2 separate regions of the Homo sapiens genome follow, and region 1 is linked to region 2. Evidence: fine-mapped expression QTL. Tissue or cell type: tibial nerve. Region 2 holds a variant in brackets; the other region holds the start of a gene. All regions are shown on one strand. Distances are between the middles of the regions.

Region 1 (9,333 bases), 26 kb before region 2:
TTTCTATGTCTCACACCTCCTCACCCACTCCCCGCAATCACACTGTGGCAGGGGCAGTGATGGGCCAATGGCTTATTCATCTCTACATCCTCAGGGCCAGCATGCAAGAGCAGGCAGTATTTGGCCATTTGGCCAGGAAGAATTTCCTCCAGGAGGCTGGTCCTAGGGCATTTGAAGGAAGCTGGGTTTGATCCATTATCTACCCAGTAGGAACATCCTACTCAACAGCAGCAATTCCTAGCTCTCTCTACCCCAGCTCCAGGCCAGACCTGCCTAGGAGGCCTGAACCCTCCCCATCATCTCTCCAAACACAGTGCTCTTCAGGTCCCACAAAGGACTCAGGCTTTACCCAAGAGGGAGTAGCCTAGGGCCTTGTACTCAAAATGTGGTCCCTAAAGAAACAACATCTACATAGTATTCCATGGTGTATATGTGCCACATTTTCATTCTCAGCAAACTATCGCAAGGACAAAAAACCAAACACCGCATTTTCTCACTCATAGGTGGGAATTGAACAATGAGAATACATGGACACAGGAAGGGGAACATCACACACCGGGACCTGTTGTGGGGTTGGGGGAGGGGGGAGGGATAGCATTAGGAGATATACCTAATGTTAAATAACGAGTTAATGGGTGCAGCACACCAACATGGCACATGTATACATATGTAACTAACCTGCATGTTGTGCACATGTACCCTAAAACTTAAAGTATAATTAAAAAAAGAAAGAAACAACATCTACAGAACTTAGGAGCTAGGGAGAAAAGCAGAATCTTAGGCCCCACCCTAGACCTCCTGAATCAGAATCTATATTTTAATAAGATCCCCAGATGATTCATATGTCCAGCAATATTCAAAAAGTACTGGCCCCAGGCAGCCAAACAGAATCCATTCAGCTAAAAGGTAACTTTAATAACAATACTTTTCATTTGTAATAATATCTGGTAATTGCTTTACATCACTAAATCCTCAGAGCAATTTGAATATGCCCATTTTACCAATAAGGAAACCGAGGCTCAGAGTAGTTGGGTATCTCGCTCAGGATCACATGGGTTTGAGGGGCCAGAGCCCAAATGTGAAAGCAATTCTGATGGACTCACCTCCATAACTACACACTACATGACACCCTGCCCTTTGCAAATTCTGTCAACATTTAGCCTTCAAAACCAGCCCAAGCAGCTCTGGAGACTTCCCTGTCCCTTCATGCAGCCACTGATCTGGTGATTATCTCTATTCTACCACTTGCTATCCACATCATGATGCCTCTACATACACCACTGTCCCCAAGAGATTGCCAGTTGTCTCTGTATAAAGATTTTATGGGCTTCCCCTATAATCACTGGATGAGTCCATGAAAATATTTCCCCTTTGACCATCAAAGAACACTCTGAGGCTGGCTGAACAATTGCTATTAAATGAATGGTGAAGATACTGAGGTTCCTAGAGAAGTTCAGTGACTTGCCCCAGGTCACCAGGAGGCTTCAGAACTCTGAGGATGGAGCCAAACTCCCCTCCCCAATTCCCAGTACAGATGTCTTCTTCCCACTCTTTCACTTTCCCTAGATTTCTCTCTTCTGACCTACATTACCAAGCAGTTAACAAAAACATTCTTTTCAAAGAACTCCCCCACGTATGCATCTTCAAAAGGGGCTCTGCTCCACCAGCAGACGGGCAAAATTTAGACATTATCAAGAGGCCACCAAAGGAAAAGGTGAGGAAACTCAGGATGCCAGATCAGATACAATGACCCTCCTGGATCCAAGGAAAGGAAAACGTCTTCAAGCAAGAGCCTCCAACTAAAGCAGCCCATCCAAGCCCCTACCCAGTAACCTCACCGTCAAGACAAGACCCCTCTGAGAACTTCTGGAGGCTGGTGGAGACCTACCCACCCTCCCTGACCAGGCACCACCACCCGCCTGCAGGCTGCAGGATTGAGATTCCACCAGCCAAAGCAGCCCTTTTCCTCCCCTTTGTTGGCTTTAGAAAGAAACTAAGACTGGCTTGTCCAAAGAAAACCAAAACATCTGCCTGAAATATTCAAATATTTAGGGGAAAAAAGGGGAAAATCCCTCTTTGGGGGATTTTTTCTTGGGAAAAAAGAGAAGCCAGAAATGAGATCCTGGGACAACTAAGCAACTCTGTTTTTTGCTTTTCTGAGCACCACGCCACCATGATCATTGAGTACTGTGTGCACTGCCAAAGAAGCACTGATCAGGGGGCTAGTGGACACTGAACACCTGTCTGCCAATCCGTTGCCTGGGCATGGGGATCCATCTGCCCAGAAGGGAACACCTTTTGTGAATTCATACAAAGGCACCCTACAGGTTAGCATGGGCTACCTATTACCGATGTTAGTCATGTTTGGATAACATAGGAAGAATAAAAACATTGACAGTGAGAAGGGTCCATGTTTTTATCTGGATTCCTTAGAATCAGATCCTGAGATAAGAATTCCTATGAAAGTGTATTAGGAGATATTCCTAGGAAAAAATGGTAGGGATGTGAAGAAGTAAAACAAGAAAAAGTAGCAAGCCAAGCGAGGGAAACAAGCCAAGCAAAGAACCATAGAGGTCAATTTGACACAACTCCACATTGGATCTCTGGAAACAAAGGATGTCATGCTTCAGAGTGTCCCAATCAAGGGCAAAGAAGCTGGACTATTTATACTCCAGCACCCATCAGTCATTGAGGAGGGGCTGCCCCAGGGGAGATGTAAATTCCCAGGCACTCCCTGTTCTGAGTCCCTACAAACATAGGCTCTGCCGCCCAAGGGTCATCCTCCAACAAAGAGATGGAGGGACTGGCAATTGGAAGTGAAGGCACCCAGGGTACCAATACGCACCAAGATGGCAAAGCTCACCATAAAAGAACATGACTCAAAAATCTTTCAAACCTAAATGAAAGGAGTTACAGAACATCTTTCAGAAAACACTTTCTGCCCCTCTTTGTTCTTTCTTCAGTGAAGCAATTTAAATATTAAATTGAAATGCTTTTCTAAAGTTGGGCTGTGAGGCAAACCCAATACTCTTTTCTTTTTTTTTTTCTTCCTGAGGGTCTTGCTTCTTGCTACTTTATCCTAAGGATAAGCACAATGCTTGCCTATTGCTGTAGATGCCTCATTGATCAAGATCATTAGCTCAACATCAGCCCAACAGATCTCCACTGTAAGCAGTTACACAGACACTTCACAGCTCCTAATACAATCATCAAAGTGCAGGGCCACCTAATTAATGCCAAGAGGTTTTATGACAGCCAATGATGAAGGTGGGACCCTGCTTCAATTTAACAGCTGTCATCTTGGACAATACATCAAGGAAAGGAAATGGAATCAACTAGGAGGGGGTGAGGTGGAGGAATGACTAACTGTTAGGATTGAATAACAACGGAGTTCCCTCCACAACTTCTCACACACTTCCCCCCTCCCAGCAGGCAGATACTCTGAAAAGGTGTCCCCAGACGCCTCTGCCAAGGACTGGCACAGCCTTCTCCCTTCCTCACCACACCTCGCCCCCAGGGCCAGACATGGAAAGGAGTGTAAATGTGATCCTATATTTGAAATTAATTGATAGGATATTTCACGAGCTCAGATTTTTTTATATTAATTCCCAAATGCTCTGCCTGTATCCTTTTTCCTAATCATCTTTGGTTCTTCTGTGTTTCTTTAGTTCTAAGGAGGGTTTCTTGTCATTTAGATGGGTCAGAGACCTCTAGAGACCTGGATCCAACTCCAGCTCCGCTGCTATGGAGCCGTGTGACCCTGGGCAAGGCACGAGCTCTGTGGGCCTCAGTTTTCTCATCTGAGAAATGGGGATAATTCCATTCTTTACAGATTTGTGGAGAGGATGAAATACGCTTAACTCTAGGTGAAGCGCTTGGCATGTTGAGTTGCACAATAAATGTCAGCTCCCTCCCTGCGCCTTCTCCCTTCTGCAGCCTCACCGCACCTGCACCTTGAAAGACACCCAGTGCGTTTCCCAGGAAGGGCCCCCCTGCTGGCGAGGGAAATAAAATCAGCTCCGGAGAGCGTTATTCCCCTAGAAAGCAGGTTTCAGGTGGTGTACACCCGCACGCGCGCGCGTTTACACACACGTACACACACATACACACGTACACACACATACACACACACAGTCCTCCGTACACCCACGCGGGGTCTGGCACTGCTGCTACATCCCGCACGGAGCGGGGTCCAGAGTTAGGGCGAATGAGTCCTCCCGCCCCCGCCAAGGTGGCGCCCAGAACGGGTCGGTGCCGGAGCGCACGGTACTCACCCGGGGCAGGCCGCGCCGGGCAGGCTGGGGCTGGCCGGGCCGGGGGCGGCGGCGGCTGCGGGGCTGGAGTGGCGGCGGGCATGGCGCGGCGGCGGGCTCGGGGAGAGCCTGGAGCAGAGGTGGCAGCGCGGGGACGCGGCTCGACGGTCGAGCAGGCGCGGGAAGGCGGGGCGAGACGAGCAGCCACGAGCCCGCGCCGACTCTCCCTCTTCTCTCCCTCCCGCCGCCCGCCGCCCGCCTGCCAGCCCCGCGCCGCGCAGCGCCCGGCGACAGCCACCGGGAACGTCTCCGGGGGCGCGGGACTTAGCAACCGCGCACCAGCTGCAGCCGCCCTCTCTGCGCCGGTCCCGCCATGCGCGCCGCTCCTGGCCCTGGAGGCCGGGCGGGGCCGGGCTTTGAACTTGCTCCCACACCCCCTGCTTCTCCAGTGAGCGCCCAAAGGCGGTCCCGCCTCTCCCCGGTCAGCGGAGTCCAGCCTTTCTGCTCTCCTTCCCCGCGCAGTTCCGCGGTGGAACCTGGCTGCGCTGGGTTTTGAACGTGCGCTTTGCCCCTGTTCTCTGTGGGTGGGTGGCAGCCCAAAGGCGACCCCAGGACCACCAGCCATCCTCGTGCCTCCCTGCAGGGCAGGGGCCAGACTTTCCACACCACTTCCTTCCTCCTATCCCATTCCCGCTCCTTGGATACACTGACCGTAGGTCCCAGGGCCGTTCTACTCTAACACCCTTGTTGCCCCCCAGATTCAGAGACCTGCTTACACTCTGGTCCACACCCATGGTCTCAAAGACTTAGGCTGCAAAACGTTCCTCCAGCCTAGTGGCTTCTTGGTACCATCTGAAGGCAGCTCGATGGCCCCTTGCTTTGTTGTACCTCTTCCCAGCACCACACACCTGTTCCTCATATTTGCAGGTCCCTCAGGTCTGCAGTGCGGGGTCTGGGGACCCATATTCCCGGGTACTGACTCCCAGATCTCTCCTGCGTCAGATAATAAATTCACTGGATCAGCCATACCCTTCTCTCCACAGGGCCGTTGACATGATTACAGAGTGGTCTGGCTTTTGCCTTTATCAATCAAGTCACAAAGTGGTCTTGTCTGTTGGGTCTGATGTTGCTGTTCTGTGAAATTGTTTATGCTCAACAGAACGCCAAGGCCGAGCTGATAGAACCAGACCAGCTCCCAGATGGCAGGGGCTGTCTTTCTCTTTATCACACATAACAAGAAGCCTGGAAGAAGGCTCCTCTGTGTGTGTTCAGCTGCTCAGGGATGACGTTAAGGACTCAGTCTCTTTCCATGATTCCACATGGCCACCTTCAACATCTTGCCTTTTCTCCTCAGACTTGTTGCCTCAAGGTTCCAAAATGGCTGCAACAGCCATGCCATGATGCTGCTGTGCAAAAAATAACTCCTGGTTCTAGCTGGTTTGTTGGCCAGGTACTCTGAAGTCATCATCAAGGACAGTTTTCAGCAATCCAGTTCACCAATGGTGAACACAACAAATGCCCTGCCTTCAAGTCACTCACCTTCTAGTAGGGGGAGACAGATAATAAAATACACAAGTATGGTGATAAATAGTATGAAGAAAAATGAACCAAGAAAAAGGGAATGTGATTATGTAAGTTGAGTGGTTGGGAAAGGTAACATTTGAGTAAAAACCCGAAGGAAGAACCTATTGGAAATCTCTCTGGGAGACAAGTGTCCTTGAGATACTTACACACTTTCTTTTTAAAATCACTTACTTTTCTCTTTAACAGCCACTCTTCCTGGCCCTATCACCTATATTTTAGGAGAAAATAAAAGTTAAATAAACTGAGTTTTAGTAAAAAGGTTTAAGCTTTGTAAAGGAGAGATCAGATGACTTGTGTTTTCTTCCTTGCAAAAGCAGCAATCTCACAGTGTTTAATTATTGGCTGGATTATCATGATTTAAATACGAACTAGATATACACATATCAAGCAATCACAATGAACACCTTAAGTTATCAGATTACTTCACAAGAGTGAGGGATATATCTTGTTGAATATTGGCAAAGAAATTGCTAATTGCCTACTCAACACCTATTTTCATTTCTGATCCGGTATTTTAAAAAAAATGTTTTTTAGCTAAGCATACTACCACCTGCAATTTAAAAAAAATACATTTTCTAGCCTCCCTTGCAGCAAGGAGTGATGATATGAAAAGTTTCTGGCCAATGAAATATAATTGTAAGTGTTGTATTGGATTTTCAGTAGATGCCTTAAAGATGCTGATTTGGCTGACAGATGCACTCCTTTGTCCCTTTTCCTTCGTCCTGGAATCCAGGTATAATGATGTGGTAGGTGAGATTATTAATTTCAGTTATTCACTCCATTCCTCAATTGAATTGGACAATCCACCCTTTATGGTACTTGGAGTGTGTTTCCCTGTACCTTGACTTTAGGCTTGGCCATCTTTCTTTTTCTTTCTTTTCTTTTTTGTTTTGTTTTGTTTTTAACTTTAAACAATTTTTTATTACACAAAGGTTGTCACATAATTGGATATTTCTCTACTTTGTACATAATTATTCTCACCCTCCACAGAAAGTCTGCTTAACTTCTCATCTGGTGGTGGCAAGCACTAAAATCCTGATTTTAACAGAATAGTAGTAAAAATGCCTCAGTTATTTAAGTTGAAGGCAGTACATTGGTACATGACTCTTGTACCCAATATCAGGAATGTACAAATGTCTTTTTATTCAAAAATACAAAATAAAGTATTGATAGGCATGGACAATGACAGCAGTAAACCATTATATATTTTGTCAACTGAACCAGTAACTGATGGTTATAATGATTTCTTAAACATCAGCCAGCCTTTTCTTCATTTTCTCCAACTGACTTCTCTGAAGTTATTGGTGAGGAACACTGCCTTGACTTCCTGTCACAGTTCATTAATAAAAGTAAAGCACTATTCTAGGAGTTACAACATGCCCCCTCCCATACCACATCCCATTCCACCCATTGCACCCATTCCAGGGTCCTTCTCTTCTTTAGGAATTTCTGTGACTACAACTTCTGCTGTAGTTAACAGAGAGGCCACACCAGCAGCATCCAATAAAGCAGTTCTCACAACCTTTCTTGGGTCAATAATTCCTTTTCCCACCATATTCACAAAATCTCCGACCCTAGTAGCATCATAACCAACTTCTGAGGAACGTTGCATAATTTTCTCAACTATCGAAGATCCTTCAACACCTGCATTCTTAGCAATGGTCATTGCTGGAATTTTGAGTGTTGTTTTGATTGTTTATATACCAATTAGTTTATCTTCATTAGCTGGAGTCAATGAGTCCAAGGCTGGAATGCACCAAAGCAGGGCACAACCCCCTCCCAAAACAATGCCTTCTTCAACAGCAGCTCTGGTAGCATTAAGGGCATCTGTAACTCTGTCTTTCTTTTCATTCGCTTCAACATCACTTGTCCCACCAACCTTTGGCATAGCTATCCCATCTGAAAGTTTTGCCAGTCATTCAGTTTTTCCTTTTCATATTCACTAGTTGTGACATCTAACTGCTCAATGATTTCTTGAATATGTTTTTCAATTTGAGCATTGCCACCTTTTCCTTTTAAGAGCATGGCATCATCTTTGGTCACAATGACCTCTCCAACTTTTCCTAAGTCATGAGGCTGAACATCTTCAAAATGTAGGATCAACCCCTCTTCTCCAAACACTGCACCAACAGTAGTAACAGCCATATCTTTGAGCTGGTTCTTTGTCACAAAACCCTGGAGCCTTGACTGCCACAACCTGAAAATCAATCTTTAGGCTGTTCAAGACAAGTGTACTTAGAGCTTCTCCACCAACATCTTCAGTGATTATGACCAAAGGCTTACGGTGAGCACTGGCAGTTTCAAGAGCAGGTACAATGGACTGGACACTAGAAATTTTCTTTTCACTCAACAGAACATATGCCTCCTGGAATTCACATTTCTGACCTTTTGATGTATTAATAAAGTATGGAGAAACATAGCCTCGATCAAACTTCAAGCTTTCAATAATTTCTAATCCATCATTCAGTGTTTTCCCATCCTTTACTGTTATGACACCCTTTCTTCCCACCTTTTTCACTGCATCAGAGAGGATATGGCCAATTTCTTTGTCTCCACTTGCAGAAATTGTAGCAACCTGCGCAATTTCTTCAGGGGTGGTCACAGGTTTAGACTGCTTTTTAGGTTCAGCTATTACAGCATCAACAGCTAACATCACACCTCTCCTGATTTCCACTGGATTAGCACCTTTGCTAATCTTCTCAAAGCCTTCCTTGGCAATAGAGCATGCCAGTACAGTAGCAGTGGTAGGGCCATCCCCAGCCTCTTCATTTGTGTTATTGGCAACATCTTGAACGAGTTTAGCTTCAATATTTTTATATTTATTCTTTAAGTCAATTGACTTTGCAACAGTCACACCATCTTTTGTTACTTTGGGACTTCCCCAGCTCTGCTCAATAATCACTGTTCTTCCCTTTGGCCCCATTGTAATGGCTACAGCATCGACTAAAAGGTCTACACCTTGAAGCATTAAGGCTCAGGCATCTGCACTGAATTTTACATCTTTGGCATAAGCCCGAGTGAGATGAGGAACCAATACCCTGGACAATGGTCTTATCTAAAGACAGTGGGGAACCGAAGCATTTCTGTGAGGTGGTGGCAGGGCATGCCCGGGGCGTGGCGAGGCAGGTCGGCAGTGAGTGAGGCCTTTTTTTTTTTAAGACTTAGTTTCGCTCTTGTTGCCCGGGCTGAAGTCCAATGGCGCAATCTCGGCTTGCTGCAACCTCTGCCTCCCAGGTTCAAGTGATTCTCCTGCCTCAGCCTCCTGAGTAGCTGGGACTACAGGCGCACACCACGACACCTGGCTAAGTGACCATCGTTCTTACTTAGGCCAGTAGGATGTTATTGAACATAATGTGAACAGGGGGTTAGAAAGTACTCCCATGGTTTGGTTTGCCCGGGTATGCTTCTGCCAATAGCCTAAATATCTGCTGGTCCGAGATAAATGTGGAGAAATATGATGCAGACCTAAACTTCAACAGGTAGCTAAGTTCGGCCA
Region 2 (11,044 bases):
ACAAGAATTCAGAAACCTGAGAGAATAAGAAAGAAATGTCAAATAAAAATGAATAATAAAAAGGTCATATTCAATTACCATATTCGATGTGTTTCTTTTTTCCAATTAAAATTTTCTTCTCCAGGCTTTTGAAAGTAACCAAAAAACCCTAAAGAAAATATATGAAATGATCTCAAACCTAAAATTCAGAATAGGAAGAAATGGTGTGTTAACCAGAAATTTTGCAGCCACAATTTTTATACCTTCTTCTCTCTCAGTCCCTGCATCTAATCCACCTTCAGGTCCTGACAATTTTACCTCCAAAACGGCCTTCAAATTCATCTACATCTTTCCAACTCAACTACCTCTGCCCTAGTCCAAGCTATCATCACATTTGGTCTTGACCACTGCCACAATCTCCTAACTCAAATCCCTGTTTGGATTCCTGCTGCATCCACAAATAGATATTCCACACCAAAAGCCAGAGAGGATTACTTAGAATGCAGATGTGATCATTTTATGCTCTTGGAAAAGTCTACAATGGCCAATAAAATTTTGAAAAGATGCTCCCCTGTTCACTCATTAGGAAAATGAAAATTAAAACCCCAGTGATATATCTCTACAAAACAACCAGAATAGCTAAAAAATTAAAATTTTTCAGTGCAGAATATCAAGTGTAGGTGAGTGTGAGAAGAGATTGGAACTCTCATACCTTGTTAGTGAGAATGTGAAATGGTATCATCATTTTGGAAAATGATTCTATAATATCTGCTAAAGCTGCATATACAACCATCCTGTGACCCTGCAATTATACCATTAAGCATATTCATCCAACAGAAATGCATATTTATCAAGACATGTTCATAAATGTTCAGAGCAGCACAATTCATAACAGCCCACAACTGAGAACATCCCAAATGCTTATTCACAACCCAATTGTGTATTCATATCATGAGAATGGACAATCTACAACTACTACAGACAAATTTCATAGACATTACTTTGAGTGAAAGAGGCCAGATAACAGATAATTCCATATACATAAAATAGAAAAACAGGCAAACAAATATATGTTGTGCAAAGTCAAAATAGTGCTTACTGGACGGGTGTGGACTGGCAGGGGGTACAAAGTGAGTCCTTCTTGGCTTCTGATAATATTCCGTTTCTTGGTCTGGGTGCTGTTTATGTGGATATTCAGTTTGTGGAAATTCAGTAAACTATGCACTTATCATATGTGCATTTTTCTGTATATGTTTATAGCTAAATTGAAAGTGTTTAAATTACTCAATGACTTCCCATTAAGGTAAAATACAAAATCATTAACATGGGCTACAAGACTGTAAAATCATCTAGCACCTGCCCTTAACTCCATACTTCTTCTGAGCTGCTAACCCCCTTGCTTAATAACTCCAGCCACATTGTCCATGAATCAGTTCCCTAAATATACCTCATTCCTTCCCATCTCAGGGCCTTTGTACCTGCTGTCCCCTGGCCTAAAACAGCAGCTGGCAAACTATGGCCCACAGGGCATTTCTGCCAATCCTGCCTGCCATTTGTTTCTGTAAGTAAAGTTTTACTGGAATCCAGCCATGTCCATTCACTTCTATATTGTCTACAGTTGCTTTGGTGCTATAACAGCCACAGAGATCATATGGTTCACAGAATGAAAATATTTGCTATCTGGCCCATTATAGAAAAGCCTTGCCAACCCCTGGCCTAGAACATTCTCACATGCCTGCTCTACCCCCATCTGTCTAACTCCTACTCACTTTTCAGAATTGAGAAAAAACAAACATGTCCTTTGTTGAAAGAAGCCTAAGTCTGTATGTTGATTGTACACTCCTGGACTTTTCTTCTAGGGCTCTCCCCTGCTTCAGATCAGCAGAGCAATGGCTTTCCTTGCTCTTCGAGTGAAATGCAAAATTCCCCACAGCCTACGAGCCTCTGCATGATTTGGTCTACTGTGTACCTCTTGGCCTTTTCTCCTACACTTGCTCTGATCTGATAACTATAGCCTCATTCTAAGACCTGGTTAAGTTCTTCTGAGCCTCAGAGACTTTGCCATGCTGCACCATATGCCTCAAATGCTCTTTCCCAGTTCCTCATCCAGCCAGCATTTGCTCACTCTTCACATGTCAGCTAAAAGATGGCTTAATAAAAAAGAGGCCACTCCCATAGAGGGTTACCACAGCCAAGTGCTGGAGGCTCCTCCCTCAGCTTGGGTTCCTGAGGCTGCTTCTTCTTTCAAAGAGAGACTCTTCTTGACCCTGCCCACACCCACCCCTGCATCTTGCTTCCACTTTTCCTTCCACAGAGGCTGCCCACTTCTCAGACACCACAACCCCCTCATAGAGCCCACCACAGGCTCCTCAGAATGGACCTCTCCCCTCACCGTCTCCCAGTTGATGACTGTTACAGACATAGCTCCCATAATATCCTGCCATCTGCCTTTTGCCCTCTGCCCTCTGCCCTACTCAGAACTGGTGCTGCCTCTCACTGGGAAGGGAATAGTCAGGTCCAGGAGAAGTCTCAAATCTTCATGGTGCTTCAGGCATAGAGATGAGTCACCCAGAGCCCCCACCAATGCAGGATTTGTTGCCTCCAGCTGCCAGTTCCTTCAGGATCAGGCTCAACTGCAGAAAGCCACCTTGGTGGAAGTCATGCCCTTCTGGGGGCAGCCCACATCAGAGACTGAGTGAGGTGGGGGCAGTAAGGCCCAGGCATTTCAGCACATGTGGAGATAGCTCTTCTTGCTCCAGAACACCCTGCCATGTAGGGCAAGGCCTTGTCAGGCCTGCATTGTAATTTTTTTGTTTTGTTTTGTTGAAATGGGGTCTCACTCCCATCTGGAGTGCAGTGGCGTAATCTCAGCTCACTGCAGGCTCAACTTCCTGGGCTCAGGTGATCCTCCCACCTCAGCCTCCAGAGTAGCTGAGACTACTAGTGATGGGGTTTCACCATGTTGCCCAAGCTGGTGTTGAACTTCTGGGCTCAAGCAATCTGCCTGTCTAGGCCTCCCAAAGTGCTGGGCTTACAAGCATGAGCACTGTGCCTAGCCTGCATTGCAGTTTGACTTCTCTGTCTTCCCAATCTTGTTTCCTGTCCCTTCCCTTTACATATTTTGACTCCTAATAAACACCATGAGCCCTGCATTCTGTCTCAGCATCTGCTTCTAGAGAACCCAACCTGCAACATTTATTTTGTATTATTATGGATTCAACACAGAATTTGGAGTCAGACAGGCCTGGGCTGGAATCCTAGCACTGGTGCTCACCAACCTGGTGGCCTTGGGAAAGTAATTTGAACTCCTAGCTTCCTAGCCTCTGGCTCAGGAAGTCTCCTCATCAAATGGAGATGAAAATATCTTTATTGCAGAGTTTTAGGATTAGTTGAAGTAATGTTATATGTCAGCATGTTAAAATGGAAGTTGGGAATGAGTGCCCAAGCTATGAAATGGAATTGAGGGACAGACCACCCCTTTCAAAGTAGATATCCCACAGTGGAACACATGACCTTTGTAAGTCCTCACCTACTTCAATTTATAAACAGTATGATTGAGGAGTATGTCTTAGAGAGTGGTTTTGAAACTCATATCTGGCTCCTGGAGGTAAAGGTGAATTGCAATTTTTACTTTGCTTCAAGACAAGAAAGAGGACTTCAGAAAGCTGACTATCCTAAAATTAGGGAGATACAATGGGCTCTTATCTGATTCCCACCAGGGAAATCAAAAGGGCAGGACACAGGCTGAATGGAGATGATTTAGCCATTCCACAATGTGTACATATATCAAAACATCATGTTGTACATCAGAAATATACATAACTTTTGCCCATTACAAATTAAAGAAAAAACACAATATTGAGCAAAATAAGTCAGATGCAAACTATTTTACACCATATGATTACATTTATATAAAGAACAAAAACAGGCAAAAGAAACATAAGTTAGAAGTCATGGTAGTATTTACCCTTGGGGACATTGTGACTAACAGAAGGCAAAAAGGTGGATTCTAGGTGCTTGTCACGTTCTGATTCTTGATCTGGGGTGCTGGTTACAGGAAGTGCTCAGTTTGTGGAACTTCACTGAGTTGTCCTCTTATGTTCACTTCTCTGTATGGTAAATTCAAAATAGCCCCATTTCTTTACATAAGCAAAAATCAATCAGATAATCTTGTAGGGGATAAAATACCATTCATACTAGCAACAGAAACACTCAAGAGTCAGAGTTAACAACAAGGAATGACCACGTTACCTGCAGAGAAAATTTTACACTGCTATGAAGAACATAAAAGAAGTATCTAAAAGGAGAGCTACGCAATCTTCATCGCTAGGGTAACTTAACATGGCAAAGCTGCCAATTCTTACCCAATAATGTATAAATCCAATAAAATACTTAGAAGAGTGATTCTCAAAGAGGGTTCCAGACCAGCAGTTCTCAAATTTTGGTGTACATCAGAATCATCAGGAGGGTTTATAAAAACAGATTCCTAGGTCTCCCCCAGAGTTCTGATGCAGAATTCCTCAGGATGAGGCTGAGGCTTGGCATTTACACCAAGTTTCCAGGTGATGTTGATGCTACTGGTTCAGCACTTAGACACTGTGAGAACCACTGCACTGGAATCAAGTCCCTCCTCCTCACCCTGTAGAAAACTCACCTCCCACAGACACACTGACACTTCATGCTTTATTACAGGACCTGCACTCCATGAACTTAAAGTAAAACAAGTTTTGCCCTTATCAAAATGTTAATTTGTCCAGGATGGTGAGAAGGATTAGCTGTTGCCAGCTTTTCATCAGTCCTTTGAAAGGAGTTGTTGACACTGCTCAGGGCCACCTTCTCTACTCCAAGTTACTCTTCAACCCAATGGCTTCTGCTCTTCTGCTAAAACAATTCCTGCTAAGTGTTTCAAGACCTTCTAACTGTTGAACCCAGTGGGAATGTTCCAATCACTGTGCCTCATACACTCCTACATTTGGCACAGGTGACCCCTCTCACCTCCTAAAATCCCTCCATACCCTTGACATTTGTAGGTACCTGCCTTTCTAGCCATTCTTTCTTCACCTCCTTCACAGAATTTATTTCCTTGTCCATCCTTTAAGTGCTGCTTGCTCCATGGCTCTATCCCGCAGTCATGCTCCTCAGGCCACCTTCTCATGCCCTTACCTGCATCCCATCCCTTCCCCCAAGCTGGATACTCATCCTTCAGCTTATCACCCATAGGGTCTCCATCTAGTTGTCACACAAGCATCTCAAATCTAACATGCTTCTTCTCCAGTGCTCCCTGGCTCAGTGAATGGAACCAATATCAACTCAATTGCCTAAATCAAAAATTTGGGAGTCAGTTTTGATGCCTCCCTCTTCCTTAGCCCCCATAGCCTATGAATTGCTCACTTGTGGGCCTTTGCTTATATGGTCCTCGATAAGGAATGCTCTTCCCGTTCGCCTCAGACTTCTCACAAGTCACTCTGACTCATTTTTTTTAAGAGACAGGATCTCACTATGTTGCCGAGGCTGGATTCAAACTCCTGTGCTCAAGTTATCCTCCCATCCCAGTCTCTCAAGTAGCTGGGACTGCAGGTGCATAGCACTGTGCCCAGCTCCACTCTGACTCATTCGTTAAGATTCAACCTAATCATCTCCTCCTCGTGAAGCCCTTCCTAACACCTCCTACTAGGCAGCCAGAATTCCATAATCCCCAATCCTTACAACGTCTGTGTATTTGCCACAGTGTGGCAGTTAGTGCAGAGTCCTAATTAGGGAAAAGGGAGCAGGGGAAAGGGAAAGGGAAAAGGGAGCAGGCTAGAGGGAGCAGGGGAAAGCAGGAAAGAGAAAGCAGATAAGGGGCAAGTCTGCCTTTCTTCAATGTCCTGGATATGCAGCCCTCCTGCACACAACTTGCCACCAGGCACCTGCAAATTATCCATTGCAACCTTGGCATCATCGGTACTGCACAAAGCCCTCTTCAGCACACAGCATAAACACTCTTCTAGAAAATCCCCAGCAAGCTTTTGTTTCCTGGCAGTCCACTCCTCTTCTGCTGATTCTGCCCATTGCCTCATCACAACAAAGTATTTTCTACTGTCTCTCACAAATCTGCCGTTCTTTATCCACAA[C/T]TGTCTTGGTAAATTTTTTTACCCCCGCTCCACCAGCCCAAATAGTTGTTGCTCCCTTGCAACAGTTAGCTCTTTGTATATCTGTTTCCCATAGTTCTTTTATGTCTTTTCATTTAACAAATACTTATAGACCTCCTTCTATATGGCTGGCACTGATCTAGCCCCTTAGGAGTCATCAGTGAACAGAACAGTGAATATCTCTGCCTCCATGGACTGCAAAGCTGGCTCACTGTGCACTGGTTACCACTTTAGCCCACTGCATCTTGGGCTGCAATTTCTACTACTTGCTTGAGTCCAGTGAGACAGAACACTCATGCAAGTTAAGTGAAGCAACGTTTTTACTCACAGATAGACAGCAAGAAAGAGTAAAAGCCTAGAATTCATAGCAAGTCAGTTCCCAAGGCTCAGAAAAGCTGTCCTGAGTGGATGGAATCCTGTCTTCACGTGCCCCACTTGCCCAACAGCTGAAGGGCCGGGAAAGCAGTCCTCCTGGGTTTTATACCCTGGGAACAACATGATATGCTGGGCTAAGGCATTGAAGGACACCTTGTTCTAGGAGGGACAAGATCAGAGCCCAGAGTATTCTGGCCACTTCCTCCTTATTTCAAGATGTTATATTTCCAGCACATGCCAGTTATTCTTGAGAACTGCAAGTGAGAAAGGAGGAAGAACTAGATCAGTCCAAGGAGAACTGTACTGCATGGTCCTTACATTCTAGAGCATCTGTGTCCCCAGGATTTAGCCAGGGTATGGAATACATTCAATAAACACTCCTTGAATGAATATACTTACATTGCAGTGTGGATGAGACAATTATAGTCTTTTTCCAGAGCACACTTTAAAAAAGAGAAGTAAGAGCAAAAATGGAGGGAGGCAGAAGAGGGCAGATCCAGGGCATAGCCAGAGGAGGAAGGGAGATGGCTCCCACCTGGATCCAGACAACAGTTTCCAAACTAAAACCTGGAAAGCTTAAGAAATAACTCGCCTGCAGGCTCAGTTCCCTGCACCATCTGCATTGATTTGTAGAGGGGCCCTTCTAGATCAGCCTGGGAATCTTCTTCTCCCACAGGGGGAGCTCAAGACCTGCTGACCAAGAGGCATCTCCCCAGGCTACGGATGCCTTGGTACCCATAGGGATACCCATAGCTCAAGGGAGGGGGAGTGATAGGCAGACCCTGAGCACCACCACCCCCACCCCGCCAGCCAAGCAACAGGGCCGGTGTCAGTCCCCAGGAAGCAAGAGACCTATAAGGGGCCTAGGGATCCTAGGGGATGAGGATAATGGAGATGCACTTCTATTATTAAACAGCAAACGACTATATTGATCAGGATACTTCAATCTAAAAAGATGGCTCCTAGAAAGGGAAGATGTTGAAGCAAAGGAAGCAGCAGGGTCCTTTCTTAATGTCACTTTCTGACATGGTTTAGTGATTTCACAGCATTCAGGCCTACATATCAGTCCCTGACCATATTAATCTTCCTCAGCGGTGATCTCCCATAGCATGGGGAACACCTCTCCATCACTGTCTTGGTTCTGCCCAGCACCCCTTGTTAATAAGGCAGGCTGGGAATGGGGAGGTACATATGAGCGACAGCCAGGCTAGGCTCCACTAATGACTAGGTCTCAGTTTCTTCTTCTCTAATTTCATCAACATCGTCATCATTCAGTACTCGCTATGTGCCAGGCATTGTTGTAAGTACTCTATATATCTAACTCACTTAATCCTCACAACAACCCTAGGAAGTACACACTAGCACGATTCCCATTTTACAAAGAAGGAAGCACAGAGAGGCTAAGTAACTCACTCAACTCACATAGCTCACACAAGAGTGTGCAGTGAAGCCTGAATGTGAAATCAGAGCACTGGCCTCAAAGTCTGTGCTCTTAGCAAATGGATTCAATCTTGCTTGAAACACTGATTAACATGTGGTGCTACTGAGAAGGATTCTGAACCTTCTCAGGAGCACTCAGTAGGAAAAGTGCCATAGCTGATTAGCAATGTCTGCAATGGTGATGTAGATGCTGTCTTTTTTATTCTTGTATTATATAATGGCAAAGACACTCTCCCTCACCAAACTTTAGTTAGTCTCTTCTGAGACATCTTTTCAACTAGGCCCTTTGCCTTGGCCCCATCCTGTCTTTGGCCTGCCTAGCCCACTCTTAGGAATAATCAGCATTGGTTAAGTTATATGCTGTGATTTTTTTAAAAAATAAAAGAAAATCTCAAAATGTCAGTGGCTTACATCAGCAAAGGATTGTTACTTGTTCATATTACATGTGGGCCATGAGTCAACTACAGATCTGCTCCATGTGTCTTTTTTTTTTTTTTTTTTAGACGGAGTCTAGCTCTGTTGTCCAGGCTGGAGTGTAGTGGCGCAGTCTTGGCTCACTGCAACCTCTACTTCCTGGGTTCAAGTGATTCTCTTGCCTCAGCCTCCCGAGTAGCTGAGATTACAGGCATGTGCCACCATGCCCAGCTAATTTTTGTATTTTTAGTAGAGACAAGATTTCACCATGTTGGCCAGGCTGGTCTCAAACTCCCGACCTCAATTGATCTGCCCGCCTCAACATCCCAAAGTGCTGGGATTATAGGTGTGAGCCACCGCACCCGGCCCACATGTCTTCTTCATTCTGAGATCTAGGCTAAATGTGCAGCCCCTCTCTGAGATGAACACCAGTCTCATGGCAGAGGGGAAAGAGCAATGGTGGGCCTTCTGATGCACTTAGAGCTTATATTTACATATGGTAAATAGAACAGTGTATTGGCCAAAGCAAGTCAAAATGGCCAACCCTGACGTCCTTAGCAGAAATATAATCCATCCACAGACAGGGGCACCTGCGAGGGACACTGTGGCTATAAACCCAGTGGAGAGCAGCAGCCAACAGTTGGGAATGATCATCTGATTTACCACAATGGGTGTAAAGTTTTGGCTCAGCTCTTTCTTCTCTGGCCTCAGTTTCTCAGCTGTAAAGTGTGTGTGTGTGTGTTTGTGTGTGTGTGTGTGTGTCAGGGTGCAGGGCTAAAAGGAGTCAACCTCTAAGGCTCTTTCCAGTTTTATACAGTCCCACTCCAATACCTGAATTCTCCTCTTGCCTGTCCAGCTGGGTTTTAGAACCATAGATTTCAATCCCTCTTCACACACTAATCTGAACAGTTAACATACACCACCTATTTTCAGTTTTTTCCCCTTACACCTAAGACTGATAGTTTCCATGTACAACATATCCTGTAACCATTCCCAGCTTTACAAAGATAAGTCATTGGTTCTACATGTGACTTGAAATAGCAGAGTGCCCCCTGCTTGTCTCCCCATCTCTTACTGACTCAAAAGTAGTCCTGCTCACCTAAGGAGGCAACTAGGAAATTCAGGCTTACTGCCCCTCACACATCAGCATCTGCTAACACAACCAGCTCCTGGTTTCATCCATTGTTGCTAATAATTACTGGTGACTCCCCTTGAGATCCTCACAGCCATGAGGATATGACTAGGACAGATTCTATCCATCCTTCCTTAAGCCATCCAACTTTGCTAACCCCACCCAGACCAAACCACAGCATCACAACACACATGTAAGTTTCTGTACCAAATGGTCTGAACAACCTCAGAGTAATAGAAACTCGAGGGAGAAACAAAGGAGGAGCTCCATCTGAAAGGGTTTTTGGCCTTTTCAAGAGGAATGACCACTGTGGATGAACCTCCCTCCCTTCCTCACTCAGTCTCTTTTTCTAATGGATCCTCACTTTCCATATTCATTCACTTCAGTGTCTTTCAATTTGGTGCACCCAACTGCTACCTTATTCAAGTAACCCCACCCTTCCCACAGAAGGCGACAGTTCCTAATCTTTCAAACATCTACTGTGCCTTAAGCAGGTGACCATTGCAACAGTTTGTGAGCAAGGCTCCGGTTCCACGAGGGAGGGCGAATGTGGGAGCTCCTCACCTGGAAATGCTGTTCTCTTTGCTACCCAGCAAGAACGGCCCCAGCTTCCAAAAGAGCCTTTTGATTTCATTCTTCCCTGAAAGAGGAGATGGTAGTGTTAGCAGTTCCTGCCCTCACCTGCACAATTCCTCTACTTCCTTATCTTTCCTACTGATCCTGAAACCCCCATATTTTGTGATGGAGACTGTGATGCCCTGCCCAGAAGCCCCTCCAGGGAATAACTTGTTGCCCCAACTGCTGGGGGGGCCTGTCAGTGGATAGTCCTGAGCCCTCAGCCCCTTCAGATATTGCTTCAGCTTCAGAGTCCCCTCAACCAAGGTCACACTCTTCCCAGGATAGCCAACATTCAATGACTAATCAAGATAGGGTATAAAAGGCCTGGACTTCTTGACCCAACTTTGGACAACTTTGAAGCATCGTTCTAGTTAGAGAGCCATGGCTGTCATTGGACCTTCCTTTGGCTCACTTCTGCTTTCTGCCTCTCCCTTTCATAAGCATTGATCCCCAGGCCTCTACTTAATAAATATCCTGCAAGCTAAACTCTATCTCAGAGTCAGTTTCTCATGGAACCCAACCTGCAACAGAAACTAACTTGGAAAACCAGTGATACATGTATATAATAGAATTAATAGATGATTCCTCTTGATCTTACTGCCCCCTGTCACTCAAAACCAAGACTATCAAAAGGTTTTCTCAACCTGAACACTATTGACAATTTGAGCTGGACAATTCTTTGTTGTGGAGGCTGTCCTGTGCATTGCAGTATGTTTAACAGCATTGCTGGCCTCCACCCACAAGATTCCAGTAACGCCTTCCCAGTTATGACAACCAAAAATGTCTCCAGACATAGTCCTCCGTGGAGCAAATAAGCCCTCAGTGAAAACTACTGATTTATAAGAAGCATCCCAGCAGGCAGATTCAGTAAGTGTGTAAAAGCATTTGGACCCTGAACATAAATATTTTTTACTTAAAATGTAATGCCTCTTCTGAGGCACTTGCCAGAAAACTC

The links. PIP is the estimated chance that this variant, and not a neighbour inherited with it, causes the effect.
Region 1: it holds the start of DCLK3, and the variant in region 2 is fine-mapped to the expression of DCLK3 in tibial nerve (GTEx, PIP 0.96).

The regions. Positions count from the first base shown.
Region 1 is chr3:36,759,908-36,769,240 of GRCh38, forward strand. It overlaps DCLK3 (doublecortin like kinase 3), which reads right to left and starts at 4,646. Exons shown (of 5, transcript NM_001394672.2): 1 at 4,275-4,646. The coding sequence starts at 4,356. It overlaps LOC105377029 (a long non-coding RNA gene), which reads right to left. Exons shown (of 3, transcript XR_940721.2): 3 at 9,081-9,333. It also overlaps the pseudogene HSPD1P6.
Region 2 is chr3:36,785,366-36,796,409 of GRCh38, forward strand. No RefSeq gene overlaps it. Among named protein-coding and RNA genes, the nearest start is that of DCLK3, 26 kb to the left of the region's middle. The variant C/T (reference allele first, on the strand shown) is at 6,093.